Linked DNA regions of Homo sapiens. The protein of the gene in region 4 purifies or fractionates together with the protein of the main gene of each other region. This does not show direct contact. Each region holds a gene or a part of one and is shown on either strand. Other genes may lie near its edges.

Evidence for each region.
Region 1: the proteins of QTRT1 (region 4) and GPR107 purify together in Homo sapiens (affinity purification with mass spectrometry; one large-scale study listed by BioGRID and IntAct). This does not show direct contact.
Region 2: the proteins of QTRT1 (region 4) and CDC42EP4 purify together in Homo sapiens (affinity purification with mass spectrometry; one large-scale study listed by BioGRID and IntAct). This does not show direct contact.
Region 3: the proteins of QTRT1 (region 4) and ACSL4 purify together in Homo sapiens (affinity purification with mass spectrometry; one large-scale study listed by BioGRID and IntAct). This does not show direct contact.

What each region holds. Positions count from the first base shown.
Region 1 is NC_000009.12:130,068,386-130,076,585, forward strand, and holds part of GPR107 (protein GPR107 isoform 3 precursor), read left to right. Parts: intron 1-7,250; coding exon 7,251-7,364; intron 7,365-8,026; coding exon 8,027-8,077; intron 8,078-8,200. UniProt on the Homo sapiens protein: Has been proposed to act as a receptor for neuronostatin, a peptide derived from the somatostatin/SST precursor.
Region 2 is NC_000017.11:73,283,024-73,290,162, forward strand, and holds the end of CDC42EP4 (cdc42 effector protein 4), read right to left. Parts: intron 3,590-7,139; 5' UTR 3,478-3,589; coding exon 2,407-3,477; 3' UTR 601-2,406; downstream 1-600. UniProt on the Homo sapiens protein: Probably involved in the organization of the actin cytoskeleton. May act downstream of CDC42 to induce actin filament assembly leading to cell shape changes. Induces pseudopodia formation, when overexpressed in fibroblasts.
Region 3 is NC_000023.11:109,682,553-109,690,752, forward strand, and holds part of ACSL4 (long-chain-fatty-acid--CoA ligase 4), read right to left. Parts: intron 2,893-8,200; exon of another isoform or gene 2,875-2,892; intron 1,115-2,874; exon of another isoform or gene 935-1,114; coding exon of another isoform or gene 812-934; coding exon 584-811; intron 345-583; coding exon 167-344; intron 1-166. UniProt on the Homo sapiens protein: Catalyzes the conversion of long-chain fatty acids to their active form acyl-CoA for both synthesis of cellular lipids, and degradation via beta-oxidation. Preferentially activates arachidonate and eicosapentaenoate as substrates.
Region 4 is NC_000019.10:10,701,653-10,709,852, forward strand, and holds part of QTRT1 (queuine tRNA-ribosyltransferase catalytic subunit 1), read left to right. Parts: coding exon 1-51; intron 52-297; coding exon 298-366; intron 367-463; coding exon 464-602; intron 603-5,649; coding exon 5,650-5,728; intron 5,729-5,847; coding exon 5,848-5,963; intron 5,964-8,200.

The DNA.
Region 1 (8,200 bases), on a different chromosome or scaffold from region 4:
ATTCATGTTTTTACGCGGAATTCATTGGCAACTGATTCAAATTTAAAAACAAAAGTAAAACAAAACACTGTGTTAGCCATGTATAACATGTGGGTTAATATAAGTCTGTAGACCCCCAGTTGGTGAGGTGAAGCTAGCTCAGTTAAGTGTTACTGTATTTCTTATTTTCTAAAATTCAGTTTATAAGAAAAACTAAATTGAGGTATCATTACTCTATTTTTTTTATGACTGAAAGCAGTTTAATATGAAGTCGGTGCAGAAGTTCTGACATTTAGTTAAAATAGCAGAACTGTCAGTATAAAACAACCGTTTTTAAAGTGAGGAAGAAAAGAGCAAATACATCAAAACAGTATGTCCTCTTTTTTATTTTTTTTGAGACGAGGTTTTGCTTTGTCACCCAGGCTGGAGTGCTGTGGCGCAATCTTGGCTCACTGCAGCCTCCGCCTCCTGGATGGGTTCAAGTGATCCTCAGCCTTCTGAGTAGCTGGGACCACAGGTGCACACTGCCACACCCAGCTAATTTTTTGTATTTTTGGCAGAGATGGGGTTTCACCATGTTGCCCAGGCTGGTCTCAAACTCCTCAGCTCAAGTGATCTGCCTGCCTCGGCCTCCCAAAGTGCTGGGATTACAGGTGTGAGCCAGCGTGCCCTGCCCTAGGATATACTTTTTATTTGGTTGTAAAAAGTATGTGGTAGTTAAAAAAATAGATTTGGGACTTAATTCTGAGTTAGGTTACTGGCCCTGCCATCTACTAGCCTAATGATTTTATGCAAGTTTTAACTCTGAGCCTCTGTTTCCTCATCTACCAAATGGACATGTTTGAGGCTACTTGCCTCATAGAGTTGTAAGAACTTGAGGTGATGTATGAAGCTCTTAGTGTAGTACTGGAGACAAGGTCAAGTGCTTGCAGTCTCTGAAATCCTTGGTGAAACAGGCACCCTTTACCACGGTGTCAGTGCTAATGGAAATGATAGGCTGGAGTTTGAGAATGTAGCTGAACCTCCATTGCCTGTGTCAGTGCTAATGGAAATGATAGGGTGGAAGTGGAGAAGGTAGCTGTATCTCCATTGCTTGTATCTGGTATTGTTATCCTCATGCTGCTTTGTCACATCCTCCTCGCTTGTACTTTCTTCAGTCTCAAGATATCTATGCCTCTATGACTTTTATAGTGAGGTATAGTTTACGAAGTCACTTCCATACATATCTTATTTGACATGACACGATAGCTTAAAATGGAGGTGGGGAACAGGTTAGGTGAAGGTCCTACAGATATTATTGGCAACAGTACTTTCTTTCTTTTTATTTTATTTATTTTTTGAGACAGAGTCTCACTCTGTCACCCATGCTGGAGTGCAGTGGCACGATCTCAGCTCACTGAAAACTCTGCCTCCCGGGTTCAAGCGATTCTCTTGCCTCAGCTTCTCTAGTAGCTGGGACTACAGGCATGCACCACCACACCCGGCAAATTTTTGTATTTTTAGTAGAGATGGGGTTTCATCATGTTGGCCAGGCTGGTCTCAAACTGACCTAAGGGTATCTGCCCACCTTGGCCTCCCATCGTGCTGAGATTACAGGCATAAGCCACCGTGCCTGGCCTCTTTTTTTTTTTTTTTTTTTTTTTTTTTAAATTTTTTTGAGACAGGGTCTTGCTCTGTTGCCCAGGCTGGAGTGCAGTGGCATGATCTTGGCTCATTTGGCCTCGTGGGCCCAAACTGTCCTCCCACCTCAGCCTCTTGAGTAGCTGGGACCATAGGCTTGCACCACCACACCCGGCTAATTTTTTTTTTTTTTTTTTGGTAGAGATGGGTTTTCACCATGTTGCCCAGGCCGGCCTTAAAATACGGGGCTCAAGTGATCCTTCTGCATTAGCCTCCTGAGTAGCTAGCATCACAGGCACCTGCTATTACTCCTGGCTATTTATTTATTATTTATTTTGAGACAGAGTCTCGCTCTTTCGCCCAAGCTAGAGTGCGGTGGCGTGATCTCGGCTCACTATAAGCTCCGCCTCCCAGGTTCAAGTTATTCTCCTGCCTCAGCCTCCCACGTAGCTGGGATTACAGGCATGTGTCACCATGCTTGGCTACTTTTTGTATTTTTTGTAGAGATGAGGTTTCGCCATGTTGGCCAGGAGGGCCTCAAACTCCAGACCTCAGGTGAACCACCTGCCTTGACCCCCCAAAGTGCTGGGATTACAGGCGTGAGCCACCGCGCCTAGCCAAAAAGAAAAAGTTGAAAGGATATATATTTGCCCTTATTTATGAAAGACTTGAAAGAAATTCACGAAAGTATAAAAAAGTCAGTGCCAGTGGGATTGTGGGTAACAATTTTTTTTTCTTTTTTTCTTTTTTTTGGAGATAGCCTTGCTTTGTCTCCCAGGCTGGAGTGCAGTGGTGTAATCATAGCTCACAGTAGCCTCAAACATCTGGGCTCAGGGGATCCTCCATCTCAGCATCCCCAGTAGCTGTGGCTACAGTTGCATGCCACCACGCCTGGCCAAATTTTAAAATGTTTTGTAGAGGTGGGGGTCTTTCTGTGTTGCCCAGGCTGGTCTTGAACTCCTGTCCTCAAGTGACCCTCCCACCTCAGCCTCCCAAAGTGTTGGGATTATAGATGAGAGTCACCAGGCCCAGTCCTAACTTTTTTTTTTTCTTTTTTTTTTTTTTTTTTGAGACAGAGTCACACTCTGTGGCGCAGGCTGGAGTGCAGTGATGCAGTCCCAGCCCACTGCAGCCTCGACATCCTGGGCTAAAGCAATCGTCCCACTTCAGCCTCCTGAATAGCTAGGATGCCACCACAACTGGCTAATTTTTTTTTTTTTTTTTGCTAGAGATGGGGTTTCTCTGTTGCCTAGGGTGGTTTCAAACTCCTGGGCTCAAGCAGTCTGCCTGCCTCAGTCTCCCAAAATGTTGGGATTATAGGCGAGAGCCACCTCGCCTGGCCCCTCACCCTTTTTTTTTCTATCAAATGTTACTGAATATAGCTTTTTACATTTAATGTTGTATCATGATTACTTTCCCTTGTTAGGAAATGATAATGTGAAAATGGCTCTCATATCAGATCTAGTTTGAAGCCCCAGCTTTATTAGCTATAGTCTGCTTGGCCTCAGGTAGTCATTTCTCCTCTGAACTGGTGTCTTCATCGCTACCGTGGGGCTGCTTCTCTTAACCACACTGAGCTGAGCGAGGGTCAGAAATCATAGGTAAAGCCCTTGGCACATAACCTAGTTCTTGGAAGACTCTGAAAACTGGGAGTTGTGATGCTGTTGTTATTATCATTATTATTATTATTACTATTTTTGTTTTGTTTTGTTTTTTGCGATAAAGTCTTGCTCTTGTCCCCCAGGCTGGAGTGCAATGGTGCAATCTCCGCTTACTGCAACCTCTGCCTCCCAGGTTCAGGCGATTCTCCTGCCTCAGCCTCCCAAGTAGCTGGGATTAACAGATGCCTGCCAGCAAGCCTGGCTTATTTTTGTACTTTTAGTAGAGACGGGGTTTCACCATGTTGGCCAGGCTGGTCTCAAACTCCTGACCTCAGGTGATCCGTCCGCCGCGGCCTCCCAAAGTGCTGGGATTACAGGCGTAATCCAGCCTTATTATTATTATTTTTGAGACAGTCTTGCTCTGTTTCCCAGACTGGAGTGCAGTGGTACAACCCGGCTCCCTGCAGCCTCTGCCTCCTCGGTTCAAGCACTTCTGCCTCAGCCTACCAAGTAGCTGGGATTACAGGCACACACCACCACACCTGGCTAATTTTTGTATTTAGTAGATATGGGGTTTCACCATGTTGGCCAGGCTGATCTTGAACTCTTTCTATTTATTTATTTTTTTATTTATTTAATTTTTTTTTTTTTTTGAGATGGAGTCTCGCTGTCGCCCAGGCTGGAGTGCAGTGGCGTGATCTCGGCTCACTGCAGGCTCCGCCCCCTGGGGTTCACGCCATTCTCCTGCCTCAGCCTCCCGAGTAGCTGGGACTACAGGCGCGTGCCACCTCGCCCAGCTAATTTTTTGTGTTTTTAGTACAGATGAGGTTTCACCGTGTTAGCCAGGATGGTCTCAATCTCCTGACCTTGTGATCTGCCTGCCTCGGCCTCCCAAAGTGCCGGGATTACAGGTGTGAGCCACCGCGCCCGGCCTTGATCTCGAACTCTTGACCTCAGGTGATCTGCCTGCTTTGGCCTCCCAAAGTGCTGGGATTACTGCCATGAGCCATCGTGCCCAGCCGATGCTGTTTTTATTGTTTAAAATAGTCTTCAAAAACCTGTTTTTCATGGCATTGTATCATCAAATGAAATGATGATGCAAAGGTTTAAAAAAAAGGAATGTACTATTTATGTTGGGGGGGGAACTGCTATCAGGTTGCAATCGAAACATTTTCTGGAAAAAAAAAACAAAACAACAAGAAAACCTGTATTGTGGTGGCCTAAGTATAAATGAAAGCCTAGCAGGTTTCCATTCTGCTGCAAAGCAGCTTCATGCTGGACCAATTAGAAAAGACATACTTTTAAAATTAAAACTTTATTGAAATGTAATATACATGGCTAAAAATTACTCATTATAAGCAAACAACTCAGCGCATTTCCAGAACGTAGACACACTCATGCAGCCCGCAGGAAATGAGGCAGAACCATTACCAAGCCCCTCCAGAAGCACCCTAAGCCTCACCTTCCCTCAAGTCCCAGGAAAGCCCCTTTCTCCTGAGAGTGGTCACTGTCTTCACCTCCGTCACCACAGATGATTTCCCCCTGCATTCCAGTTTGTTTTACATGAATATGGCTGTGATTCATATACGTTGTTTTATGTGGCAGAAATTGTGTGTTCATTTTCCCTCATCCTCTCCCTCTGCAGTCCTGCTCCACTGAGGATTCTGCCAGAGAATGAAGCCCTAATGTGCTAAGGCATCCATTTATGTAGTTGAGTTAATGTCTCCTGTGCCTCTAGGAGGGTAGTCATCATATACTGTCCTTGAGAGAATTGAGAAAATAGATACTGAAGACATTTTCCGTGGGTTTAATTCTCTCAGAGAATTCCAAGAAAGGCTGGGAGCCTTAGCTTTTCTGGCTTTTACCATTGACCCACTCTTGTAGATTCCAGGAGATGACCTCTGTTATCTTATCTGGCTTTTCTAATTGTTCTCTGTGAGAATGTTGGTTTGCTGCAAGCCACTCCAGCCCACCAGGAAGTGGAAATCCAGCAAACATGTTTTCACCACATAGCCAAGCTCCTAAGAAAATAAGGGAAATTCCCAGGGGCCCAAAAAAGGGAAGAAGGAGCTGAAACTCCATTGGGGAAAGAACAGGGAAGCCAGGGCTTCCCTGTGACGTTGCAGAAACTTGAAGCCCAGAGGCCTGGGTTTTTTGTTTGTTTTGTTTGTTTGTTGTTGTTGTTTTTGAGACAGAGTCTCACTGTGTCACCCAGGCTGGAGTGCCATGGCACGATCTCGGCTCACTGCAACCTCTGCTTCCCGGGTTCAAGTGATTCTCCTGCCTCAGCCTCCCAAGTAGCTGGGATTACAGGCATGTGCCACAATGCCCGGCTAATTTTTTTGTATTTTTAGTAGAGACAGGGTTTCCCATTTTGGCCAGGCTGGTCTCGAACTCCTGACCCCAAGTGATCCTCCTGCCTCGGCCTCCCAAAGTGCTGGGATTACAGGCGTGAGCCACCACGCCCGGCCGAGTCCTGGGTTTTTAACAGATGTTGAGGGGAAACAGGGACCATAGCCTTAGGCCTGAGCAGGGAGGTGAGTTGGAACTGTGTCCCTCTGCTTCTCAGCCCATAATCTAGGGCTGTCAAAAAGCTATGAATGCAAGAGTGGGCAGGAAAGAAAATCCTGCTAGTGATAGTGCAGTGTGGTGTAGTTCTGTGGGGGAGAGGAGGGGATTTAGTTTATGCTGTTTCTGCCAAAGATCTGCTCCACAGCCTGTCCTCACAGGCCTTTGGTGTTTGCCATTAGACTACCCGGGATGTCCAGGAAACCCCAAATCTAGAAATAAAAAGTTACCCTTCACACCAAGAATCAAATTGCAGACTTACGGAAGGTGTTGCAATTTAGCCAAATCTCAATATAAAAATTGTTACACAACATAAAGTGTGTTTGTGGAAGCCCAGTTTTAGAAGTGTTCACTGACACCATTGCTCTGTTGGCCCTGCAGTGTACTGACTTAGTTGAGATTGGAGTCAGGATGTTGAGACAGCATCAAGCAGGTGGGGTAGGCGTCTGCCCATGTGATTCAGTCTCACCAAACCTTAGGATTATCTTGTATCCAAAAGACTCTGTCTCCATGTCGCTAATTCCTATTCCTGGGATTCCTCTTGCATAAGGCTTTGTTCCCTGAAAACCCATCATCTACTGTATCACTTTTAGGTGAAAATTCACCTTTTTAAATAATTGACTTATAGCTTAGCTTCATTCTTTATCCTGCCAATGGGAGGAGCCAGGTACACACAAATTGATAAGAGGATTTATATAAATGAGTGTATTCTTGGAACAGCTTCAGCCGCTCCTTTTCTTCCTCCCCACCCCCCAGCATGTTTTGAGTGCCTACTAGATGCCAGGCATTGTACTATCAGGAAGGATGTGGGGATGACGATAACATGGTTCCTCCTGCCCTGGAATTCACATTTCAGCCAACCACTGAGTTTGCCCCTAGAACCCATACCAATGCATTGGAGTGAATTTGAATCCATTGAATACTTCCTTCTGCAGAAACTGTTGATATCTTTTGGATTTCCGATGAGTTGTCTTCAGCTTTTGGAGAAAGACATGTTACCACAGCTGTGTATGTTACTGAGCATATGGAAACATTGGCTGGCTAGCAAGAAATAAGATATCATAGTTTTTCTCTTCTTTTCTTTTACCTTTTTTTTTTTTTTTTTTTTTGAGACAGAGTCTTGCTCCGTCACCCAAGCTAGAGTGCAGTGGCATGATCTCGGCTCACTGCAACCTCCACCTCCCAGGTTCAAGCAATTCTGCTGGCTCAGCTTCCCAAGTAGCTGGGATTACAGGTGCCCGCCACCATGCCCGGCTAACTTTTTGTATTTTTAGTAGAGACAGGGTTTCGCCATGTTGGCCAGTGTGGTCTCAAACTCCTGACCTCAGGTGATCCACCCGCCTCAGTCTCCCAAAGTGGTGGGATTACAGGCTTGAGCCACCGTGCCCAGCCTGATATCATACTTTTTAAAGCAAATGAATAGGTTAAATAATCAAAAGCACTTTTCCATATGACTAATTCCACCACTACAAATCTCTTTAGGATGATGTGAGGCATAAAGTTCATCTGAACACCTTTGGCTTCTTCAAGGATGGGTACATGGTGGTGAATGTCAGTAGCCTCTCACTGAATGAGCCTGAAGACAAGGATGTGACTGTAAGTACCTTTTAATGAGATCCAGGGGTTTACTCTTTTTTTTTTTTTTTTGAGATGGAGTCTTGCTCTGTCACCCAGGCTGGAGTGCGGTGGCGCAATCTCAGCTCACTGCAACCTCCACCTCCCGGGTTCAAGCAGTTCTCTGCCTCAGCCTCCCGAGTAGCTGGGATTACAGGCACCCACCACCATGACCGTCTAATTTTTGTATTTTTAGTAGAGACGGGGTTTCACCAACTTGGCCAGGCTGGTCTTGAATTCCTGACCTCGTGATCCACCCGCCTTGGCCTCCCAAAGTGCTGGGATTACAGGTGTGAGCCACTGCGCCCAGCCCAGGGGTTTACTCTTTTAGCTTAGGTGAGAGTCACCTTCCAACCCCAATGCTTAAATATAAAATACCAGAATATGGAGATAATTAAGCATGTGAGTAGCAAATTATATATCAGGCATCAAATAATTTCACTTTTAACACTTAAAATGTAATTCTGTAATAATTCTAGTAATTAGTGACTTTGCTTGAGTGATTTTACTTTGCCTTCTTACAAAATGAATGCTAAGAAAACAGAGGAGACCACGTTAGAAGTACCACTTTTTCTGCTTTTTGAGTAAGAAAAGTATGGACAATTGTGTAGATATTTACTTCTACTGTTTTTACTCCCCATTAGATTGGATTTAGCCTAGACCGTACAAAGAATGATGGCTTTTCTTCTTACCTGGTGAGTATTAAATGTGTGACCTGATTCATCTCTTCACCTGAGCCCAGGCCATTGAACGGGAACACCCTACTTCTTGCAGTTCCATTTTCATTTTTTTTTTGGAGTACGGTGGCACAATCATAG
Region 2 (7,139 bases), on a different chromosome or scaffold from region 4:
TCAGGAGTTGGAGACCAACCTGGCCAACATGGTGAAACCCAGTATCTACTAAAAATACAAAAATTAGCTGGGTGTAGTGGCGCACGCCTGTAATCCTAGCTAGTTGGGAGGCTGAGGCAGGAGAATCGCTTGCACCTAGGAAGCGGAGGTTGCAGTGAGCTGAGATCACACCCCTGCACTCCAACCTGGGCGACAGAGTGAGACTCCATCTCAAAAAAAACAAAACAACAACAACAAAAAAAAAAAACAAAAAAAAACAAAAAACCAACCCCCTCCCCCACAAAAAGCCCATGTCACTGTTTCTGTGCCTCAACCCTCTAAGAGTGGCAGGATACCCATTTTACAGAGCAGGAGAGGGAGGCACAGAACAGCTAAGCGACCAAGTGCCAAGGGCTTCCAAGAGATGGCAGTTAGGGACACCTGAGTCCCCAGACTCTGAAGGGGCCTGCCCAGGCAGACAGCATCGCAGGAAGGGCGGGTCCTCACGGACAGAGAGACAGAAGCCACCTCAGGCCCCCCTGGACAGCTCTAGGACCTGGGTCCAGACCCCACCCCCATCCTGAAATAGCCCTCCCAAAAAGCAGAGACAGACACCAGGCGTGCTTTAGGGCTTTTTTTTTAATGTTTCCTCACTGTTTTGACAATATCATGAAAAAAATCAGTTTAGAATCTGGAATTGGCCTGGACGGGATTCGAGGGCAGCTGGCGGGGGCTGCATAGCCCCTGAGGTTCCTCCCCCACCATGGGACCTAAGCTATTGGAAACAGGAGCACCAACAGGGCACCGAACCTGGAACTAAGTTAGTGTCTAGAGTCAGGCAAGAGAGGAGAGTCAGGCAAGAGAGGAGGGGCCGGGCCACAGTCGCCATGGGGACGCCCCTGGCTGTGGTTGGTTCTGTGTCTCCCCCTCCCCTCACTGGCTACATGGAGACAGGGAGGTGGGTCAGGCTGTTCCCAGGACAGAAAAATAACCGGCAGTCAACCTCAGGGCTCATACCCGAGCTTCTGCTCAATCCCCTCGGGGACAGTTACAGGACTCAGAGAGAAACGTGAATTTCAGAAAAACAAATCATTTTTCACATAAGTGTTCCAAATATTGCGTGGGGCATATTAATGCTAGAAAATTATCTTTTGTTTACCTGAAATTTGCGTTTAACTCAGCACTCTGTTTTGGTTTTGCTAAATCTGGCCAACCCTGGCCTCAAAAGTCGGTGGGGGGAGGCCTGAGAAAAGAAAGGGAAGTAGTCAGTACTGAGGGTATTGAGGGGAGGGAGGGAATAACTCAGCCAAAAAGAAAAAAAAGGCTTTCCCCCCATAGGAATGATATATTATTTAAAAAAAAAATCGTTCTCCAAAAATATTCTGCACTGGCCTTCCTCAGTTGTTAATAGCTATGGGAGGTGCGTAGGGAAAACACACACACCAGACACCCACCCCATGTCATTCTAAATAAAGTTGGGAAGCACTAAAGTTGAGCTGGTGTCTTTGCCACGGATGTCCCCAGACTCCAGTCCGCTAATCGCCACCAGACTCCAGTCCGCTAATCGCCACTGTGAATTTTGAAGAGGAGGCTTAGTATAAAGGTTTTCTAAAAGGATTGATTCTCATTCTGAGGCAGACCTATTAACACCATCCTGATATTGCTCTATAAGGATTTAAACACAATAATAAAGAACAAACAAGCCCCTAGGGACTGAGCGAGTGCCCTAGCCCTGTTCCTAGTGTCATCCTGGAAGGGTCCCTTCTTGCAATTCACGAAGCCTGGGGGGCTTTCCTTCCATTCTCCATCCTGTTCTCTTCCCCTGGAAAGGGCTGCGTTTAGTGCACATGCTCGCAGCTGGCCCCCCGTCCAGCTCAGCTCCAAGGGGCTCCAGATTTCCAGGGCAGGAGCTGGGGTGGGGCAGGGAGGGGCTGAGAGGCAAGACCGTCTCCCTCCTGCTGCAGCTGCTTCCCCAGCAGCCACTGCTGGGCACAGCAGAAACGCCAGCAGAGAAAATGGGAGCCGAGAGTCCTTAGCCCTGGAGCTGAGGCTGCCTCTGGGCTGACCCGCTGGCTGTACGTGGCCAGAACTGGGGTTGGCATCTGGCATCCATTTGAGGCCAGGGTGGAGGAAAGGGAGGCCAACAGAGGAAAACCTATTCCTGCTGTGACAACACAGCCCTTGTCCCACGCAGCCTAAGTGCAGGGAGCATGATGAAGTCAGGCAGCCAGTCGGCACCCATGCCAGCCCCCTACGTCCTCCGAAGACCCGAGGGCCAGGCCAGTGTCCCTCATCTACAAGGTCCAGGGTCCATGGTCTGAATCAAGGGTCCTGGCTGCCCCTGCGCCGTAGGGTCAAAGGTCATAGTGGGGTGGGGGCAGGGAGAAGATGCAGCCAAGAGCTCCCGGTGGCCACCCACTGTCCGCCTCACACACGGATTTCATCCTCCTCCTCCTCATCCATGAAGGAGAACTCCTTGTCTGGCTGTCTTGAGACAGCAGCCCGGGCCCTGTCCGGCCCCCGGAAGGCAGGGCTGCGCTCCTCCAGGATGCCTGAGGTGCAGCTGGAGAGGGAGCTGCTGTCCCGTGTGGTGTGGCTGCCCATGCTGCGGGCTGAGCCGGGGCTGGGGGCCGCTGCTGCCCACCCCTCATCCTCCAGAGCATGGGAGGGGAGGGAGGGCAAGTCTGGGCCAGCCTTGCCTTCCTGCCTTGCCAGGGGAGGGGCCGCCACGGCGTACGGGGGAGCCTGGGTGATGGTGCCAGCGGCGCCCTCATCGCCATGGTAACCACCCTCCCCCTCCTCGGGGTCCCACTCCTCCTTGTCCATGATGCTGAGGACGTCACCCAGCATGGAGGGCCCCAGGTCGATGTGGAAGGACATGATGGACTCCGCATGCTTCAGCCCGTACGTGGCCTTGGGCACGACAGGCAGATCTGTCAGATCCCCAAAGGCCTGCTCATCGAGGAGGGGGTCAGGGGAATGTGGACCCGCGGCCCCATTCCGACGGGGCACTGCCTCCTCCGTGCCCGCCTCCTCATCGCCGCCCTCCCCGTCATTGGCCTTCTTCACGGGGCTGGATGACAGGCTCTTGGGCAGCTTACTGGTGCCCTTCTCCGCGGCCTCCTTCTCATTGAGCTGGGGCAGGGACATGGCATTCTTGACAAACAGGGCCGAGTCCCGCAGGGAGCCCAGCATGTCACGCTGCTCCCGCTCCCCCCTGGTCACCGACTGTGACCGCTTGCTGCCCCGGAACTTCCTGGACAGGAGACTGCGTTTGGAAGATGAAGAAGAGGGCTGTTCGTCCAAGGACTCGCCGTCGGGCTCGCCAGCCTTGCTATTGAGGAAGGAGGTGTCCCCAAAGGCGTCTCCGGCCCGGCCAACGTGCATGGTGTGGCGGAAGTCGCCCAGCGGGGCGCTGATCATCTCGGCCGTGAGGTCCGCTCGGGAACGGCGCTTGGAGTGCACCGAGCTGGACACCAGTTGCTTGAGGATTGGCATCTTGCTGGATGGGCGGGGAGGTGGGCCCTCCCGAGGTAGCCGGCAGGTCTGGGGTCAGATCTGAAGTCCAAGTCCAGTGGGCAGAGGGGGACGCAATGAGGAGATCATAAGGCTGCAAGCAGAGAATGAGAGGCAAAGGATTAACGCGGGCTGGCCACACGGCACAAAAGCCTCTTTGCCAGGGGACTGTCATTTAAACCCCAGCGCTCCTACCAAAGTTAAATGCTGTGAAATAAGCCAGCAATCCATGGTATAACCCTGCCTGTTTCTTCATCCGCAGGCATTCAGAGTAGAGGAGTGATTTTGCAAATCTGGTTAGAGTTCCAGTAGCCTCGGACACACTTTCCCTGAAACTTGAGAGAGACAGAACCTTTCTTGCAGAAGACAATGCCTCCCCTGCCCCTGCAAGCCAGGATGCTGCCAGAGTAAACATGACCACATTTAAGGACGCGAAGGTAAATCCAGCAATTCCAGGCAGCAAGCCAGGGAAGAGATGGAGTCTATGAGTTGGCTCCTATGAACAGTCAGCCTGGAGATGTGCTGTAAGTTCTTCCTGCTGTCTAACCTCGATCCCTGTGGAGTTAGTGGACACCCCACCCTGAGTCCTGGTCCTCAGAGAGAGAAGGGAAAGGACAGGACGGGCTCAGGGAGACAGAGGCTGACCAGCTCCTCCCCCTGCGTGGGCGGCACAGTCCTCTTTCTGAATCAGAACTGGGGTGGGGCTGCTGGGACCCACAGAACCAGCTCCCCAGCCTTTCAGCCTTCGCTTGGTATCCCATAAATGAGGATCCCGCCTGTGACGTCTCCACTGTGGAGCCCCAGGCTCTTTGCTGAGGGTCCACCTTCTGGTGTCTCGGGGAGATCAAGATTGGGCAACTTCCAGTTTCTTTCATCATTAGGGGAGTGGGAGGCAGGGACTGGACCCTAAATGACTTCGTCCCCCCAGGATCTGCAGACTGATTCCTAGGTGATTCACCAGAAATCCAAAAAACAGCAGAGGTAGAGCCCAGGAGCCTGGAGGCACCACTCTCACAGCTCCTGACAAGGGCCAAGTTGAAGTTCAGCATTGGGGCCAAACCAGCCCCTCTCTTCCCTAGAGGGGCTTGCCCCAAATACTAAGCCCAGCAGAGCTGGGCAGGTTGGGGAGAGATGGGTGCAGGGATTTAACAAAGTATGGTGGGTGAGAGGTGATGCTTGGACACCAGGTACCTGCCTGCCTCCCAGTCCAGCCAGCAGCACAGTTCTGAGAGGCACCCCCAGTCCAGACCCACTCTTCCCACTGCAAAACTCAGATGCTGGGTGCTTCCTCCGCATGCCTGCCGCTGCGTCACACAAGCCCACCACACCCCACCTGGCCCCTGACATCAGCCTGACAGGTCTCCCTGTTGGTCTCCCTCCTGTCCATCCTTCACCTCTTGGCTAAAACAAAACCCATCCACATGACGCCCTACCCAGTGCAGACCCCTTGATCCAATGACTAGTCCCCACCTCGCTCCTCAGTGTCCCCTACTTTTGTACCCTGATCTATCCCCTGAGCTGCAGTGGATACAAACAGTTCCCCAATGCAACCCCTGCCACACCCAGCATCCTTCAGGGCTCAGCTGGGACACATCACTACTCCCAGGAAACCTTTAGCCACCACCTGCCCCCCACGGCACTTTGGGAGATGTCCCCTCTTCCAGCAGATACTGGCTACATTATTCTGTCCCTGCTGGCTGGACTCTCATCTTCCCACTGCAGTACAAACTTCTAGGGTTTTGAGGCAGATTCTCGCCCTGTCCCCCAGGCCGGAGTGTAATGGCATGATCTTGGCTCACTGCAACTTCTGCCTCCCGGGTTCTAGCGATTCTCTTGCCTCAGTCTCCTGAGTAGCTGAGATTTACAGGTGCACACCACCACGTCCAGCTATTTTTTTTTTTTTTTTGTAATTTTAGTAGAGATAGAGATGGAGTTTCACCATGTTGGTCAGGCTGGTCTCGAACTCCTGACCTCAGGTGATCCACCCACCTCGGCCTCCCAGTGCTGGGATCAGGACGTGGGATCAGCGTGAGCCACCGCGCCTGGTCCATCCAGAGGGTTTTAACAGGTCTGTTTACCACCGAGTCTGGTCCAGCAGGGTGTGACACATGGTCCGCCTCCAACCGCCTCCAAGCACCCACTGGAAGTCCAGCACCTCCCTCCTCTCCTCCCCTTCTGCCCACAGCCTGGCTCCAGGGCTCCCAGCCTGACCTCTCTGCATCCTCACCCCCATCCGCTTCCCTGTTCTCTCAAGCCTCTGCTGCCCAGCCTCATGGCTTCCCCCACCAGCAATGTCCCCCCTCCCAGTGCCCACGCCATACCGCTTATCATTCCAGCAAACACAAAGTTCTCTCGGGCAGGGAGGGGGAGCCAGGCACCTGGCAGACTTGCCACACAGTGACGTGGGCGAGGACGTGAGGGATGCCTTGAGATGATACTCTACTCTGGGTCATAGGTCAGCTCTCTCTCCTCCCTACCCTTAGGAAAGTGACCTTCCCCTAACTCTAACTTGGATTATCTCTGGGCCCCACCCTCCTGCCCCACCTCAACCTCTAAACAATTAGACATTGAACCGCTAGACCAAAGGTCAGCAAACACTTTTTGCAAAGGGCCAGAGAGTAAATATTCTCGGCCTTGTGGCTGATAGGGTTTTTGTCACAGCTACTCAACTGTCTTCTTAGTATAAAACTAGCCGTTGGCCGGGCACAGTGGGTCACAACTGTAATCCCAGCACTCTGGGAGGCTACGGCAGGAGGATCAGTTGAGCCCAGGAGTTCCAGACCAGCCTGGGCAACACGGTGAGACCCCATCTCTACACAAAATCAAAAAAAGAAAGAAAGGAGCCATAGCAACATGTAAACAAGTAGGCATGGCTATGTTCCAATAACATTTTATTTACAGACAACTTCTGGGTTGGTGAGCAGATCGAGGTGCCAGGAAGGTGGTGCGTGCCCTGCCCCCCACCCCAACACTTGACCCCACGCATCCTCATGCAGCTCTTCCGTTTGGCTGTTCCTGAGTCGTATCTTTTGTAATAAACCAGTAAAAGAAAAAAAACCACCAAAAAGCCACATCTTTATTTACAAAAGCAAACGCAGGCTGGGTTTGGCCCATGGACTGTAGTTTGCTGACTCCTGAATATCATATATGACCCTCTTGGCCAGCCATGGGCTCCTAGGCAAAACTCTGAAGAAAACAGGAAGGGAGGAAGGGAGGGAGGGAGGAAGGGAGGGAGGAAGGGAGGGGAAGGAAAGGAAGGAAGGAAAGGAAATAAGGAAAGAAAAAAAGAAAGAGAGAAAGAAAAAGAAAGGAAAGAAGGAAAGGAAAGGAAGAGAAGAAAGGAAGAAAGGAAAAGAAAAGCAAGGAAGGAAAGAAAGAGAAAAAGAAGCAGCAGAAGAAAAGAAAAAGAAAAAGAGAAGGTAGACTCTGCCTCAGTCACGTTGGGCATAGAAGGGAAAAAGGCCAAGCTTCAAACGAACTCTCGTTCCTGGCAAATCCTTCAGGCTTCTACTGCCACCAGCAGGGACACCAGTCAGGAACGGAGGGGACCCCATCTTCCACCTGCCTGCACCCCGACTCCTGGCTCTACGCACAGCATCCAGGAATCTCAAAGAACTGGAGGGGATATTCAGTGCAGCACTTTC
Region 3 (8,200 bases), on a different chromosome or scaffold from region 4:
GTCATCGGATATCTTTTAGCCACAATATTACATGCCGTATTATGGACATAATTAATGTGTAAAATGGCTAAACAACACCTACTGTGAAAACAAGAGCATCTCAAAACAATTCTCACATGCAAGCAAAGACCCTCCTCTCCCCCCTCCAAAAACACAAGGCACTTACGAGGAAAGTTGTACTTAAAGCAGGTCTGTGCTGCAATCATCCATTCGGCCCTGGTCTCACAGAAGATGGCAATGGTGTTCTTTGGTTTTAGTCCCAGTGCAGTGAGTCCACTACCAAAGTTATTCACTCTGCGATTCACTTCAAGATAGTTCATCCATTTATAATTCCCAAGAATTAACTGTTAAAGTGATACATTCTCTAATATTAGTATATTCAAACAAGCAATTAAAATACTATCCAAAGCATAAAACTCTAAAAATGCTCTTAAATGAACATACAGAAGCTATGAGCGGCTTCTGAGTAGTTTTACACAGCACTATAATAGAATGCCAGCATACTTAAAACGCACTCGATTTATGATAAAACAAATGTGTCTTCCTCTTTAAAACATAAATGAAAAGCACCAAAATACTTTACCTTCTTAAAAACTTTTCCATTTGGCTGCATTTCATTTTCTTCACTTAGGATTTCCCTGGTCCCAAGGCTGTCCTTCTTCCCAAACTTGGATACAGCATGGTCAAATAATTTATCCAGAGTATCTGCTCCAGGGATGTCTATTACAGCTAGTGAGTCGAAGTGTGTGACAGAGCGATATGGACTTCCAGGTTTGTCTGAAGTGGGCTTAGCTTTTATTCTCTTTGCCATAGCGTTTTTCTTCTTGGCATTGGTAAGAAAATACCATGGAATAAATATAAGGGCACTGTATATTGTTATTAACAAGTGGACAGGCAGCAAAATAATGGTGAGCACATTTAGCTTAAGTTTCATAGTGGAAAGGCTTCTAAAATGGTGCTTATTTCTTGTTATTCTTTGGCTTTTGAAAGCCTTATTGTGCTGAAGAAGGCAATAATAGAAGCAGCAGTAAGAATAGCAGTACAGCCAAGGCAGTTCAATCTTAGTGATACAGATAAAAGTTAGTAATCTTTGGAAGCCGACAATAAAGTACGCCTGTAGGTGATGACAATGAACCAAGCAGAGAGCAGGAAAAATAAAAACAAAAAACAAAAAACAAAAACAAAAGAATATTAACAAGTTGATAGCACAATTGATTTAAATACTCAGGTCTTTATTAGTTTACACAATTAATTACAGAAAGCTGAAATAACTGGTCTGAAAGGCTGGCATTTTCCATTTGTAATCATTATTGACGTAAATGTCTTTGAGCACATCAACTTCTGAATTTATTTTTTTCTAGGTTTCTAGGTGTACTGGTACTCTGCATATCATTCTGTGAGTTGAATAACAACCTTAATGCTTACACAAATGCATGAATATGATATTTAAGTTTGTCAAAACTTTGGTAGAATAGGGTATGCCAATAATAAGATTTCTCTTAAACATGTGCATGTAAACTAGACATCTTTAAATAGTGTTAGGTTTATATCCAAAGGGGGGGGTGGGGCAGAAACTATCAACTTAGATTTATTTCTCAAAGGTCAACCCAGAAACCTTATTCTGAGTTCTTCATTAAGGTAAATTTCTCAGGTAATGCTATTTACTATCTACTATTTCCCACATGGGAGCAATACAATTGTAAAATCATTTCCTACATGTCCACTTTGTGCTCAAAACTGCACCAGTTGCCTAGGAGTGGTAATACAAGTCTGAAGTAGTATTAATTCCTGGCCCTTGGCCATTATAAGTTAACACTTATGAGTCAACTATCACACAAGATAGATCCAGTATTTTTGCAACTGTTTGGGGGAACGGGGACAGGGGGTGCAATTAAACCATCTCTTCTAATAAACACTACTGGAAACTGCCCATATATAACACTAAAGTGGAGTTGCTCTGGCCAAAACAGGGTTTGGGGATGTCCAGAGTCCTGCCCCAGAATTCCCGGAATCCCAACTCCCAAGGTGACCACTAAAGCATTTCCACTGAAAAGCCTTGTGGTAATACATAACTAATACATAACTACCATGTGCAGTGTAGGCAGTAGTATAAGCAATAAATGCAAAAGGAGTTCAGAGGAAGTGCAAAATGGCCAAGAGTAACTAGGAGAGGCTTTGTGGAGATTAGATTTAAGCTGGACCTTATGTTGGGCATCTAGAAATGAAAGAGGAATGGAAGGTATTCCAGGCTCAGGGACCATATGAAAAAAGATACGAAGGTGGGAATGAAAGGACTTTGGGAGAATAGGAAGTACCAATAGCAAGGACACTAGTCTGACTGGGGCACAGCATACACTAAATACGCTAAATACGCTTGACTAAATACGCTACGGTAGTTACAAAATCTAACAAATCAGGCAAAGTAATTTTGATTGGATTATGTGGAAAGCTGGGGGCTGCTGCAGGTTAGAAAAACAGTGCCATTGGAAAGAAACCGCAGAAACAGGCTCAAGAATAGTAATATTTCTTTTCTTTCTTTTTTTTTTTTTTTTTTTTTTGAGACAAGGTCTCACTTTGTCACACGGGCCAGAGTGCAGTGGCATGATCTCAGCTCACTGCAACCTCTGCCTCCCGGACTCAAAAGATCCTCCCACCTCAGCCTCCCGAGTAGCTGGGAACACAGATGTGCATCACCATGCCTGGCTAGTTTTTTTCCATTTTTTGTAGAGACGGGGTTTTGCCATTGTTGCTCAGGCTGTTCTCAAAATCCTGGACTCAAGCTATCTGCCCTCAATGGCCTCCCAAAGTGCTGGGATTACAGGCGGGGGCCACCACACCCGGCCCAAGAATAGGAACATTTTTTAAGGAGCTTACCTTCAACTGAGAAAGCTACTTCGGTGAGTTGTAGCATATTTCAACCAGAAAAATCAAAATATTAGTTCACTTTGAAGAGACAAACTGAAGCCCATCCTTCTGCAACTTTTGTAGAAACAGACTGACAGACTTAATTCAATTGACCCCAGGCTAGTTGATTGTTTTTATACCATCTAATATAAAATGGTAGCTTAATCCTGCCTGTGCCTTTGTTCATGTAATTTAGTTGAGTACAGTGAAATGAGAAAGAAACTGGAAGTCACTGGGTGTCAATCCTCATCTCTGCCCCTAACTGGCTGTGTAACCTTGAGCAAACCATCTACCTCAGTCTGGGACCACACTAGATCAGCAGGCCTTAACCTCTTAGAGATGATGGGCCTTTTTGAGAATGAGAACGAGGAACCCAATTCCCCTCAGAAAGACATGCTAAATGATACACACAATGTCAAGTGATTCACAAGTTCCTTGAAATCCATCCATGAACTTCAAAGGGCAACAACCCTGAACTAAAAATGTCTGGCCTAGGTGATTCTTAGGGCCTTTCCAGCTTTAAATTCTATGACTTACCCTACTTGGAAAGTACCTTCTTAGTCTCTCGGACAAGTCTGGTCATTCATTTCTTCAAGATAAGGTATGTCATGTCAAGGGTTTATCATAATGCTGAATGTAAGATCCCCTCTAACAATCCTCTCCTCCCACTGAAGATTTCATGGCTACCCAAGTCCAGAACAATCTTTACTTTTTCTAATTTCACACATCATTAGCAATATCTACCACTCAATCTGATACATGATTATACTACCATCACTTCCAAACTTCTGGGTACCACAGTATAGAACACGGACCAGTAGTTCTCAACCATATCAAACCCAGTACCTCTTTCTTATGACAAATATTTTGTGATACCTCTTCATCAACATCAAAGGATAGTCATAATCTACCAACACACCATTTTAAAAAATGATTTCTTACTGGTAATATAAAAGAGTACCATAAAGAAACTAATTTAAAATTTAACAAAATACTTGTTTCAATACATACATTCTCAGAGACAATATTAGCAGACATAAAAGCATGTCTTCAGATTTATAAAATGCCCCTAAGGGGTGAGTACCACCTTACCCTCAATTGAGAAATCTTCAGGCTTAAGGCTGAAAATATATAAAGAAACAGAAAATAGCTTTTGAAGAGCCTGTACTTTAGTTGGATTTAAAATGCATTGTATGTTTTTTAGTTATTGATGTTACATAAATTTAATCTTTTATACATATTTGCCTTAAGTCTTAGAGAAAGAGAAATGCTTTCTAGGTAATCCTCATAGTGCTTAGTACAGACACACACACACGCATGCACACACACACACACACACACACACACACAGTAGGCAAGGCTCAAAGAACATTCAGGTGAGAAGAAACCAGAGAGATCATTTAGTCTAGAGGTTTTCAAATTCTTTCTGCAGGTAGTGAGGGGGTCATGGGTCATCCATTTGAATAAAATCTTATATAGATATAAAAACACAAGCGTAGATGAAAGCAAAAAGCATAGCTGCTCTGGTAGAGGAGGCTATGACAGCCCCTGAAGGGACTCCTTGGAACTTCCAGTTCAGCTGAATATTTGAACCACTGATATTGTCTGAGCCCTCATCTTACAGAGAAGCAAATGAATGGCAGAGCACAAATCGAGCACCCAGTGCTCTTTCAAGTACACTAGCCAGCCTCTGCCCAGTTTTGCCTATCATCTTAAACTATAATACTTCCTTGTCAGGGGTTATACTCAGTCTATTGATAAATTCATTTCAAAAAAGATTTAAACATTTCATTTCACTTCAAAAAAAGAAGAGTTGGTGGTAAGGGTATGATGCTGAGCATCGTACCCATCATTAGGCAAAATATAATGTCTCATAAGAGAAACAACAAAAATTTTCTAGGCTAACAGATCTGGGTTTAAAATGTGGTTCTATGCAGCCATAAAAAACAATGAGTTCATGTCCTTTGCATGGAGATGGATGAAGCTGGAAACCATCATTCTCAGCAAACTAACACAGGAACAGAAAACTTAACACTGCATGTTCTTACTCACAAGTGGAAGTTGAACAATGAGAAAACATGGACACAGGGAGGGTTACATCACACACAGGGGCCTGTCAGGGGATGGAGGGCTAGGGGAGGGATAGCATTAGGAGAAATACCTAACGTAGATGATGGGTTGATGGGTGCAGCAAACCACCATGGCACGTGTATACCTATGTAACAAACCTGCACGTTCTGCACATGTATCCCAGAATTTAAAGTATGATTTAAAAAAGAAAGCTCTATATTAGTGGCTTCATCTGTAAAACAGGAATACTGCTTATATTACCTACTTTATAGTGCTTTTGTGAGAAACCTTTGTCTTCTTCCTCTTAAATTCCATAGGCAATCATACTCAGTCCCTCTTGGTTGTCTCACTTGGTTGTACTTAATCATCTCAACCACAGCCTGGTTCTATCCTATCCAATTCTCCACCTAATCTGTACCTGTACCTATGCAGCTGAATTTGCTGTGAGAAACACATGACTGTGTTGAGTGTCTCACTTTAAACTTGTGATTGCTACCTCAAATGGACTCTCCCTGATGCAGAGAGACCACACCGCACTAGTCCACTCACTGGCCCACTCCTCTGGATTTCATACTTTACTCTCTTCAGACCACCAACATTCCTCATCCAGACTTATTCTCAGCAGCTGACCTATTTTGCAGACAAAACAGCAACAATCCAAAGATAATTTCCACAGACTCTCACTGCTACATCTACCCACCTAATCAAATCTGTGGCCACATGCTGTTTTCTCTCCTGTGACTATGGATGAACTGTTGATGCTCCAAGCTGAGGCCAACCCCTTCATTTATGCATTACACCCTGTCTTTATAAGGACACGGAAGTGCTACTCTACCAATTCTTCCCTCTCGTCCTTCCTCATTAATTTTCCCTGCTCTTCTGAACTATTCCCTTCAGCATCATAACCAGCTGTTATTTCTTTCATCTTAAAAAACATTCCCTCCTTTGCATCTTCTTTTCAGCTATAGCCCATTTATTTTCTATCTCTTTGGCACTCCTTGAAAGAGGTGTCTATGGCTCTCTGTCTCCCAGTTCTCTCCTATTTTCTCTTGAACCCACTACAATCAGGCTTATGTCTCCTACCACTCTATAAACTTGTTCTCCTCATCAGGGTCTCCAATGACTTCCATGCTATTAGATCCAAAGGTCAATTAAAGCTCAGTTCTCTTCTTCCTTGACCCACTGGCAGCCTTTAACACAGCTGAGCCCTCTTCTGCTTTAAACTTCTTCACTTAGCTTCCAGGAAACCATATTCTTCAGGTTTTCTTCCTACTTCCCTGGCTATTCCTTTTCAGTCTTTTTTTTTTTTTCTGCTTCTTCCTCACATTCCTGGCCTCTAAATGGTATGGGGCTTGGTCCTTGAACCTCACAATTTTAAATACCACATATATGTCGTGATGACTTCCAAATTTTTCCTTCAAGCCTGGAAGTCTGCCTTAAACACTAGATTTGTATATCCAACTGTTTCCTCAACAGATCCACTTAGGTGTCAGTTAAATACCTCAAACTTAGCATGTTCAAAACTGAGATCATCCTTCCACAATCCTATCTCACCCAGTCTTGCCCATCTCTATATATTCCACTTGCTTTGACCAAAAACCTTAGATTCACCCTTTTACCCCCCTCTCTTTCTCACACATTCCACAGGCAATTCACCAGCAAATCCTAATGGTTTGACTTACAAAAAAGGTGAATCTAATTCAACTACTTCTTACCACCTCCACTGTTACCATCCTGGTTTAAGCCAATATCATCTCTCATGTGGATAAATGGGATAGCCAATCTAGTCTCCCTGCTTCCATCTCATACCCCTACAATAAATTCTAAACTCAGAAGCCAGAGTACTATTCTCAAAATGTAAGTTAGATCATACCATTCCTCTGCTCAAAATCTTTCAAAGAATTCCCATATGACTCACCCAGAATATAAGCTGAAGTCCTTACTACAACCTACAAGACTATATAGTCTTTCCCCTACCCCAAGGTTCTGACTTCACCTCCTAGTACGCTTTCCCTGGAACATTCTTCTGCAGTCCCATTTGTTCCTGCCCCATGGCCTTTGTACTTGAGGTTCTCTCTGCCTGGAATGTTCTTCCAAGACATCTACGTAGCTTATTCTCTTGCCTCTTTTTTTTTCTTTACTCAAAGAACACCTTCTCAGTGAGGCATTTCTCCAGCCAACTTCTTTTAAAATTGTACTCCCCACACTTTCTATCCCTTACTTGCGTTATTTTTTTCCTGAGTACTTTTACTAATATACCATGTTTTATTTTTCATGTTTACTGTCTATGCTCCCAGTAGAATATAAGCTTCACAAGGCAGAGAGTTTGTCTCATTTGCTGCTGAATCTGTGACTGGAACAGTGCCTCCGTGTGTTGGCTTCAATCAAATTGTTTACTGAATTAAGAATGTACTGGAATTATTCTGAATCTATAAGGTAAAAATATATGCAAGTACAATAACGTGAAGGTAGCTAACTTTAATCATCTTAAAAAACAATCACTTGTCCATGTCAACATCCTAGGAAATACTATACTCTTAAAATCCCTGGTAATTAAAATAAACTTGAACATGTTGTTAGTTGCTTAATAGAAAATATGAAACTGGAAAAACTGCCTGTTGCATAGAGTTGGAAAAGATTGGTGTTATAAAAGCATGAAGGTTACACAATTTGCACTATGTGCATTTTCACTGATAATTTTCACAAAGGTATGCTGTCCTTCCATGTATGAAGAATGATACTGCTATCCCATCATTAGGAGGACATGAACTTTGAGTGGTGCTTCCTTGAAATCATGTATTTGTATGTCAGCCAGAAAAAGGCAGGGCATTATCTTCAGTCATTGGATAGTTAATTGCTCCTGTTGAACTTTACCATTCCATATGGGAATCATAGTAATAACCAGGTATTGAGCATTTACTACAGGCTAGATACTGTGCTAAGTCCTTCAGATATATTATCTCATTTAATCCTTCAGAAAACTCCTTTGAGGTAGTACCTTCATTTTAAAGATATAACAGACTCAGAGAGATTAAGTTGCCCAAGATAGCACAGCTGAGTAGAGATTCGAACCAGGTCGCTTTGATTTTAAAGTCCATGTTTTTAGCTCAATTATCTGTGATCCTAGTAATACTGGTATAATCTAAATAAGTGAGAGTGACAAACTTTGGGTATGAAGAAATACTGGCAACAATTTTGAGCACTAATCTGTCCTACATCCTAAGAC
Region 4 (8,200 bases):
CTGGGTTGCCGCATCTGCCTGGGCAATACCTACCATCTGGGTCTAAGGCCGGTGGGTGGGCTCTGCCCGCGCGGGGAGGCGGCGAGGCGGCGAGGCGTGGGGAGCCATGGAGCGTCCTCCAGGCCCGGACACTCCTCCCAAAGTCAATCGACCAGCTGTATTGAGCGCCCCCAATGACCAGGCCTTGTACTGGGCGTGAAAGAGCAGCAGGGACTAAAGCTGGCCAGATCTGTCTCCCAAGAAGGGCCCCCAGGGACGCGGTCACCCCTAACCTGACACTTTCTTCCATCAACCCAGGGACCCGAGCTGATCCAGAAAGCCAACGGTCTCCACGGCTTCATGAATTGGCCTCATAATCTGCTAACGGTGAGCTGAGGAGAGAGCCGACGTTCTAGGGCCCTTCTCTGGAGTGAAGGGTCCCCATCTCCACCCCCTGACAGCTTTGCGGTGGGGTTTCCCTTAGGACAGCGGCGGTTTCCAGATGGTGTCGCTGGTGTCTCTGTCCGAGGTGACGGAGGAGGGCGTCCGCTTCCGCTCCCCCTACGACGGCAATGAGACCCTGCTGAGCCCGGAGAAATCCGTGCAGATCCAGAATGCGCTGGGTGAGAGGACCCTGGGGAGCCGCCTCCTTACCCTGTCTGTCAGGGGGTGAAGTTTACACGGGGCCTGTTTTTTAGCTGTTGTGTGGCTTTGAGCAGGTCACTCCTCGCTGAGCTTCAGTTGAACCAACTCAAAGCGGGGGTAAATAGTAGCAGGTCTTTGGTAGAATTGTTGACAAGTACATATGAGATGATGTCAGTAAATCTCCATCCCAGCCATGTAGTAGCTTAAGTATTATTATTGCAGTTTTTCTCTCATTAGCAAATTAAGACTGGACGTGGAAGCTCATGCCTGTAATCCCAGCAATTTGGGAAACTGAGGCGGGAAGATCACTTGAGGCCGGGAGTTGGAGACCAGCTTGGGCAATACAGGGAGACCCTGTCTCTACCAAAATAAAAAATAAAAAATAAAAAAAACAAATTAATTGGACAAATATCTGTTGAAATAATGGTGGCAACAAGAGGATTGGGGAGGCTTTAGGCTTCTCCCATATCCTCAATATCCTTCTTTTTTTTTTTTTTTTTTTTTTTTTTTGAGACAGAATTTTGCTCTTGTTGCCCAGGCTGGAGTGCAATTTTGCGATCTGAGCTCACTGCAACCTCTGCCTCCCGGGTTCAAGTGATTCTCCTGACTCAGCCTCCCGAGTAGCTGGGATTACAGGTGTGCGCCACCACACCTGGCTAATTTTGTATTTTTAGTAGAGACAGGGTTTCTCCATGTTGGTTAGGCTACTCTCAAACTCCTGAGCTCAGGTGATCCGCCTGCCTCGGCCTCCCAGAGTGCTGGGATTCCAGGCGTGAGCCACCACACCTGGCTTTTTTTTTTTTTTTTTTTTTTTGAGACAGAGTCGCCCAGGCTGGAGTGCAATGGTGTGATATCCAGTCACTGCAACCTCCACCTCCTGGGTTCAAGTGATTCTCCTGCCTCAGCCTGCTGAGTAGCTGGGATTACAACTGCTTGCCACCATGCCCAGCTAATTTTTGTATTTTTTGTAGAGACGGGTTTCACTATGTTGGCAAGGCTGGTCTCAAACTCCGGACCTCAGGTGATCCACCTGCTTCGGCCTCGCAGAGTGCTGGGATTATAGGTGTGAGCCACCACGCCTGGCCCAATATCCCCATTTCTTGATAAAGAACCATGGCAACACAGGGTCAAAACCCCTCTTCCCCTCATCATTCTAATAGATTGATGCTGTAGGGAGGAAGAAATATTTTTTCTTCTTAGATTCATGGCTGAAGCCCCTATAACAAAAACCCTTATAAGAAAAGAAGCCACGTGCTGGGTGCGGTGGCCACGCCTGTAATCCCAGCACTTTGGGAGGCGGAGGCGCGATCATGACTCACTGCAACAGCTGCCTCCTGGTTCAAGCAATTCGCCTGCCTTAGCCTCCCAAGTAGCTGGGATTACAGGTGCCCGCTACCACACCCAGCTAATTTTTGTATTTTCAGTAGAGATGGGGTTTCACCATGTTGGCCAGGCTGGTTACGAACTCCTGACCTCAAGTGATCTGCCCATCTTGGTCCCCCAAAGTGCTGGGATTACAGGTATGAGCCACTGTGCCCGGCCTATAAGTTTATTTTTTTATGTTTATTTATTTTTATGTATTATTTTGAGACAGAGTCTCACTCTGTCACCCAGGCTAGAGTACAGTGGCACAATCTCAGGTCACTGCAACCTCTGCCTCCTGGCCTCAAGCAATTCTCCTGCCTCAGCCTCCCAAGTAGCTGGGATTACAGGTGCATGCCACCACGCCCAGCTAGTTTTTTGTATTTTTAGTAGAGACAGGGTTTCGCCATGTTGGCCAGGCTGGTCTTGAACTCCTGACCTCAAGCGATCTGCCCGCCTTGGCCTCCCAAAGTGCTGGGATTACAGGTGTGAGCCACCATGCCCGGCCAAATATTTTTTGTAGAGATTAGAGTCTCACTACATTATCTGGGCTGGTCTTGAACTCCTGGCTACAAACAGTCCTTTGCCTTGACCATTCAAAGTGCTCATGTTACAAGCATGAGCCACTGTGCCAGCCCCCATGTGTTTTTTGTTTGTTTGTTTGTTTTTTCTGGAGATGGAGTCTTGCTTAGTCTCCCAGGCTGGAGTGCGGTGGCGCGATCTCGGCTCACTGCAAGCTCCGCCTCCTGGGTTCATGCCATTCTCCTGCCTCAGCCTCCGGAGTAGCTGGGACTACAGGCACCCGCCATTACGCCCAGCTAATTTTTTTGTACTTTTACTAGAGACGGGGTTTCATCGTGTTAGCCAGGATGGTCTCGATCTCCTGACCTCGTGATTCGCCCATCTCGGCCTTCCAAAGTGCTGGGATTACAGGCGTGAGCCACCGCACCCGGCCTCTTTTTTTTTGAAACCGAGTTTCGCTCTTGTTGCCCAGGCTGGAGTGCAATGGCGCAATCTCGGCTCACAGCAACCTCTGCCTCCTGGGTTCAAGCGATTCTCCTGCCTCAGCCTCCCGAGTAGCTGGGATGACAGGCATGCGCCACCATGCCCGGCTAATTTTGTATTTTTGGTAGAGACGGGGTTTCTCCATGTTGGTCAGGCTGGTCTTGAACTCCCGACCTCAGGTGATCCGCCTGCCTCAGCCTCCCAAAGTGCTGGCATTACAGGTGTGAGCCACCATGCCCAGCTAAAGTTCTAGCTTTTTAATGAATGTCGTAATTTTTTTTTTTTTTTTTGATGTGGAATCTCGCTCTGTCACCTAGGCTGGAGTGCAGTGGCTCGATCTTGGCTCACTGCAACCTCTGCTGCCCGGGTTTAAGCTATTCTCCTGCCTCAGCCTCCCCAGCAGCTGGGACTACAGGTGCCTGCCACCACGCCTGGTAATTTTTGTACTTTTAGTAGAGACGGGGTTTCACCTTGTTGGTCAGGCTGGTCTTGAACTCCTGACTTCAGGTGGTCCACCTGCCTCAGCCTCCCAAAGGGCTGGGATTACAGGCGTGAGCCACCGCACCCAGCCCCATATTTATTTTTTCGTCTTTTCTTTTTTTTTTTCTTTTTTGAGAAGGAGTCTCACTCTTTGACCAAGGCTGGAGTGCAGTGGCACTGTGTTGGCTTACTGCAACCTCTGTCTTCTGGGTTCAAGCACTTCTCCTGCTGCAGCCTCCCGAGTAGCTGGGATTACAGGTGCCCATCACCACACCTGGCTAGTTTTTATATTTTTAGTAGAGACGGGGTTTCACCATGTTGGCCAGGCCGGTCTCGAACTCCTGACCTAAGGTGATCCACCCGTCTCGGCCTCCCAAAGTGCTGGGACTACAGGCGTGAGTCACCACGCCTGCCCCTTTTTTTCTTTTTTGAGACACAATCTCGCTCTGTCACCCGGGCTGGAGTACTGTGGTGCAATCTCGGCTCACTGCAACCTTTGCTTCCTGGGTTCAAGCGATTCTCCTGCCTCAGCCTCCCAAGTAGCTGGGACTTCAGGTGCATGCCACCATGCCGGGCTAATTTTTGTATTTGTTGTAGAGACAGGGTTTCACCATATTGGCCAGGGTGGTCTTGAACTCCCGATCTCAAGTGATTGACCTGCTTTGGCCTCCCAAAGTGCTGGGGTTACAGGCGCAAGCCACCAGGCCTGGCCTGTTCTTTTTTTTTTTTTTTTTTTTTTTTTTTTTTGTGGAGACAGAGTCTCGCTCTGTCACTCAGGCTGGAGTGTAGTGGTGCGATCTCGGCTCACTGCAAGCTTCACCTCCCGGGTGCACACCATTCTCCTGCCTCAGTTCCCGAGTAGCTGGGACTACAGGTGACCGCCACCACGCCCGGCTAATTTTTTGTATTTTTAGCAGAGACAGGGTTTCACTGTGTTCGCCAGGATGGTGTCAATCTCCTGACCTGGTGATCCACACGCCTTGGCCTCCCAAAGTGCTGGGATTACAGGCGTGAGCCACTGCGCCCGGCTGTGGCCTGTTCTTTTTTATTTTAAATTGTTTTCATCTATTTATTTTCTTAATAATGGAGATGGGGTCTCTCTGTGTTGCCCAGGGTGGTCTCGAACTCCTGGGCTCTAGTGATCCTTCCGCCTGGGCCTTCCAAAGTGTTTGGATTATAGGTCATCAAGTTTCATTTTATGCCACTAAACCACTATGCTGTGCACCGTGGCTCATGCCTATAATCTTAGCACTTTTGTTTTGTTTTTGAGACGGTGTCTCGCTCTGTCGCCTTGGCTGGAGTACAGTGGTGCAATCTTAGCTCACCGCAACCTCCGTCTTCCGGGTTCAAGCGATTCTCCTGCCTCAGCCTCTTGAGTAGCTGGGATTACAGGAATATACCACCACGCCCGGCTAATTTTTGTATTTTTAGTAGAGACGGGGTTTCACCACCTTGGCCAGGCTGGTCTCGAACTCCTGACCTCAAATGATCCACCTGGGTTGGCCTTCCAAAGTGCTGAGATGACAAGCGTGAGCCATCGCGCCTGTTTTTTTTTTTTTAACCTTTTTTTTTTTTTTTTAACACAGCCTTGCTCTGTCATCCAGGCTGGAGTGCAGTGGCACAATCTTGGCTCACTGCTACCTCTGTCTCCCAGATTCAAGCTATTCTCCTGTCTCTGCCTTCCAAGCAGCTGGGAATACAGGCACGTGCCATCATACCTGGCTAATTTTTGTGTTTTTAGGAGAGATGGGGTTTCACCATGTTGGCGAGGCTGGTCTTGAACTCCTGACCTCAGATGACCTGCCTGCCTCGGCGTCCCCAAGTGCTGGGATTACAGGCGTAGTCACTGCGCCCAGTCAGCAGAGCCCTGCTGATGGACGTTTGGTTTCCCGGTCTTGCTGTGGCACGCCACATAGCAAGGGATCCCTTTGTATATTTTAGGATTTTATTTTGTGTAACAGGATAGGATTTTAAGCTGGGGAGAGGCAGGATCAAAGGCACATTCTGTAAAGCTCCTTCTGGCTGCTGTATAAACAGACCGGGAAAGTCACGTGGGAGTTAGCAAGACGGGGGATGGGGGGATGCTCTTGGGGAAGTCCAACTTGTCCCCATGTGACGGCAGGCTTTCCCCAAGCATTGCGGGCTTTCCCAGTGATGTTGCCCCCATCTCACCATCAGGCTCGGACATCATCATGCAGCTGGACGACGTGGTTAGCAGTACTGTGACTGGGCCACGTGTGGAGGAGGCCATGTACAGGTGTGTATATGCTGTGTGCATGTGTGGGATATGTGGTGGGAGGGGATCCTGGTCCCTGTAGCCTTGTCTCCTACCCCCTCACCAGGCCCCTGGGGCTTGTGACTGGGGCCCTGTTGCAGGTCAATCCGCTGGCTGGACCGGTGCATTGCAGCCCATCAGCGGCCGGACAAGCAGAACCTCTTCGCCATTATCCAGGGTGGGCTGGACGCAGATCTCCGGGCCACCTGCCTTGAAGGTAGAGCCATGCGCTGGCAGGCCCAGGGCTTGGCCATCGCGGAGGTCCCCACATGGGCCTGGCGTATGGCGGGACTGGATTGCTAATGTGTAGAAGGGCACTGCGCTAGAAAAAATAGCCGGAGCAAAGGCTCTCGGGCCACGTGCAGTAGAATGTATTGAGAGAATGGCCATGATTCCAGTAGTTAATGATCTTCTAGGTTTTTTGTTTGTTTGTTTTTGTTTTTTTTTTTGAGACGGAGTCTCAGGTGATCCACCCCCCTTGGCCTCCCAAAGTGCTGGGATTATAGTCATGAGCCACCGCGCCCAGCCTATTTATGTATTTATTTATTTTACTTTTTTTTTTTTTGGAGGGTGGAGTCTTGCACTGTCGCCCAGGCTGGAGTGCTGTGGCGCGATCTCGGCTCACTGCAACCTCTGCCTCCCTGCAACCTCCGCCTCCCGGGTTCAATCTATTCTCCTGCCTCAGCCTCCTGAGTAGCTGGGACTACAGGCACCCGCCACCAGGCCCGGCTAATTTTTGTATTTTTAGTAGAGACAGGGTTTCACCATTTTGGCCAGGCTGGTTTCAAACTCCTGACCTTGTGATCTGCCTGCCTCGGCCTCCCAAAGTGCTGGGATTACAGGCGTGAGCCACCGTACCTGGCCTCTTTATTTATTTTTGAGACACGGTCTTACTCTGTTGCTCCTCCTGGAGTGCAGTGGCTAGGTCAAAGCTCACTGCAGCCTCAAACTCCTGGGATCAAGCAGTCCTGCTTCAGCTTTCCAAAGTGCTTGGAATATAGGTGCACGCCGGTGTGTCCAGCCATGCATTACCTTTTACATGCAATGCTTTCTGGTGTTTTCTTTTCTCTTTCATTTAAAAACAACGACAACAACCCGTGCGTCATCAAAGTCATTTCTCAACCACCTGCAGTTTGACAAGCACCGCCCCATGGGGTGCTTCTCAAAGTGCTCTGAGGCTTACCTGCCCCAGCACAAACTACTGAAAGTCCTGGTAAAATGCAGCTCCCCTTCCCATGATCCGACCAGAGTTGGAGCTAGGGAAGGCCTAGGAATCTGCATGTAAACACCCTGTGTCCAGTTGGAGGATGCTCACATTACCTTCAAAACCTGGCCCCAGACAACGCCTGCATTCCTTTTTTTTTTTTTCTTTTTTTTTTTTTTTGAGACGGAGTTTCGCTCTTGTTGCCCAGGCTGGAGTGCAGTGGCGTGATCTCAGGTCACTGCAACCTCCACCTTCCGGTTTCAAGTGATTCTCCTGCCTCAGCCTCCTGAGTAGCTGAGATTACAGGCATGCACCACCATGCCTGGCTAATTTTTGTATTTTTAGTAGGGACAGGGTTTCACCATGTTGGCTAGGCTGGTCTTGAACTCCTGACCTCGTGATCCACCCCCACCTTGGCCTCCAGAGTGCTGGGATTACAGGCTTGAGCCACTGCACCTGGCCAACACCTGCGTTCTTGATGGCATGGCCTCTTCGGGTTGAACTGGGCAGCTGGGGCACAAGATAAGCCTGGACTTGGAGGCCAGACCCAGGTTTGAATCCAGCCTTTGGCATATGTAGCCTTGGACTAGTGGTTTAAGCTCTGCAAGCCTCAATTTCCTCTTGTTTCAGGCAAGTTGAACAATAGCACAATTCTGCAGCCCCTTCTGTGTCATCCAGGTCCTCAGAGCGAAAGTCTAAAATCCAGAACATTGGCCGGGTACCATAGCTCACACCTGAATCCCAGCACTTTAGGAGGCCAAGGCAAGAGGATTGCTTGAGACCAGTCTGGGTGACATAGTGAGATCCCATCTCTAAAAAAAGAGAATTGGGCCAGGCACGCTGGCTCACGCCTGTAATCCCAGTACTTTGTGAGGCCAAGGCGGGCAGATCACGTGGTCAGGAGTTCGAGACCAGCCTGGCCAACATGGTAAAACCCCGTTTCTACTAAAAATACAAAAATTAGGCCGGGCGTGGTGGCTCGCGCCTGTAATCCCAGCACTTTGGGAGGCTGAGGCGGGCAAATCATTGAGGTCGGGAGATCGAGACCAACCTGGCTAACACGGTGAAACCCCATCTCTACTAAAAAATAGAAAAAATTAGCTGGGCGTGGTGGCGGGCGCCTGTAGTCTCAGCTACTCGGGAGGCCGAGGCAGGAGAATGGCGTGAACCTGGGAGACAGAGCTTGCAGTGAGCCGAGATTGTGCCACTGCACTCCAGCCTGGGCAACAAAGTGAGACTCCATCTCAAAA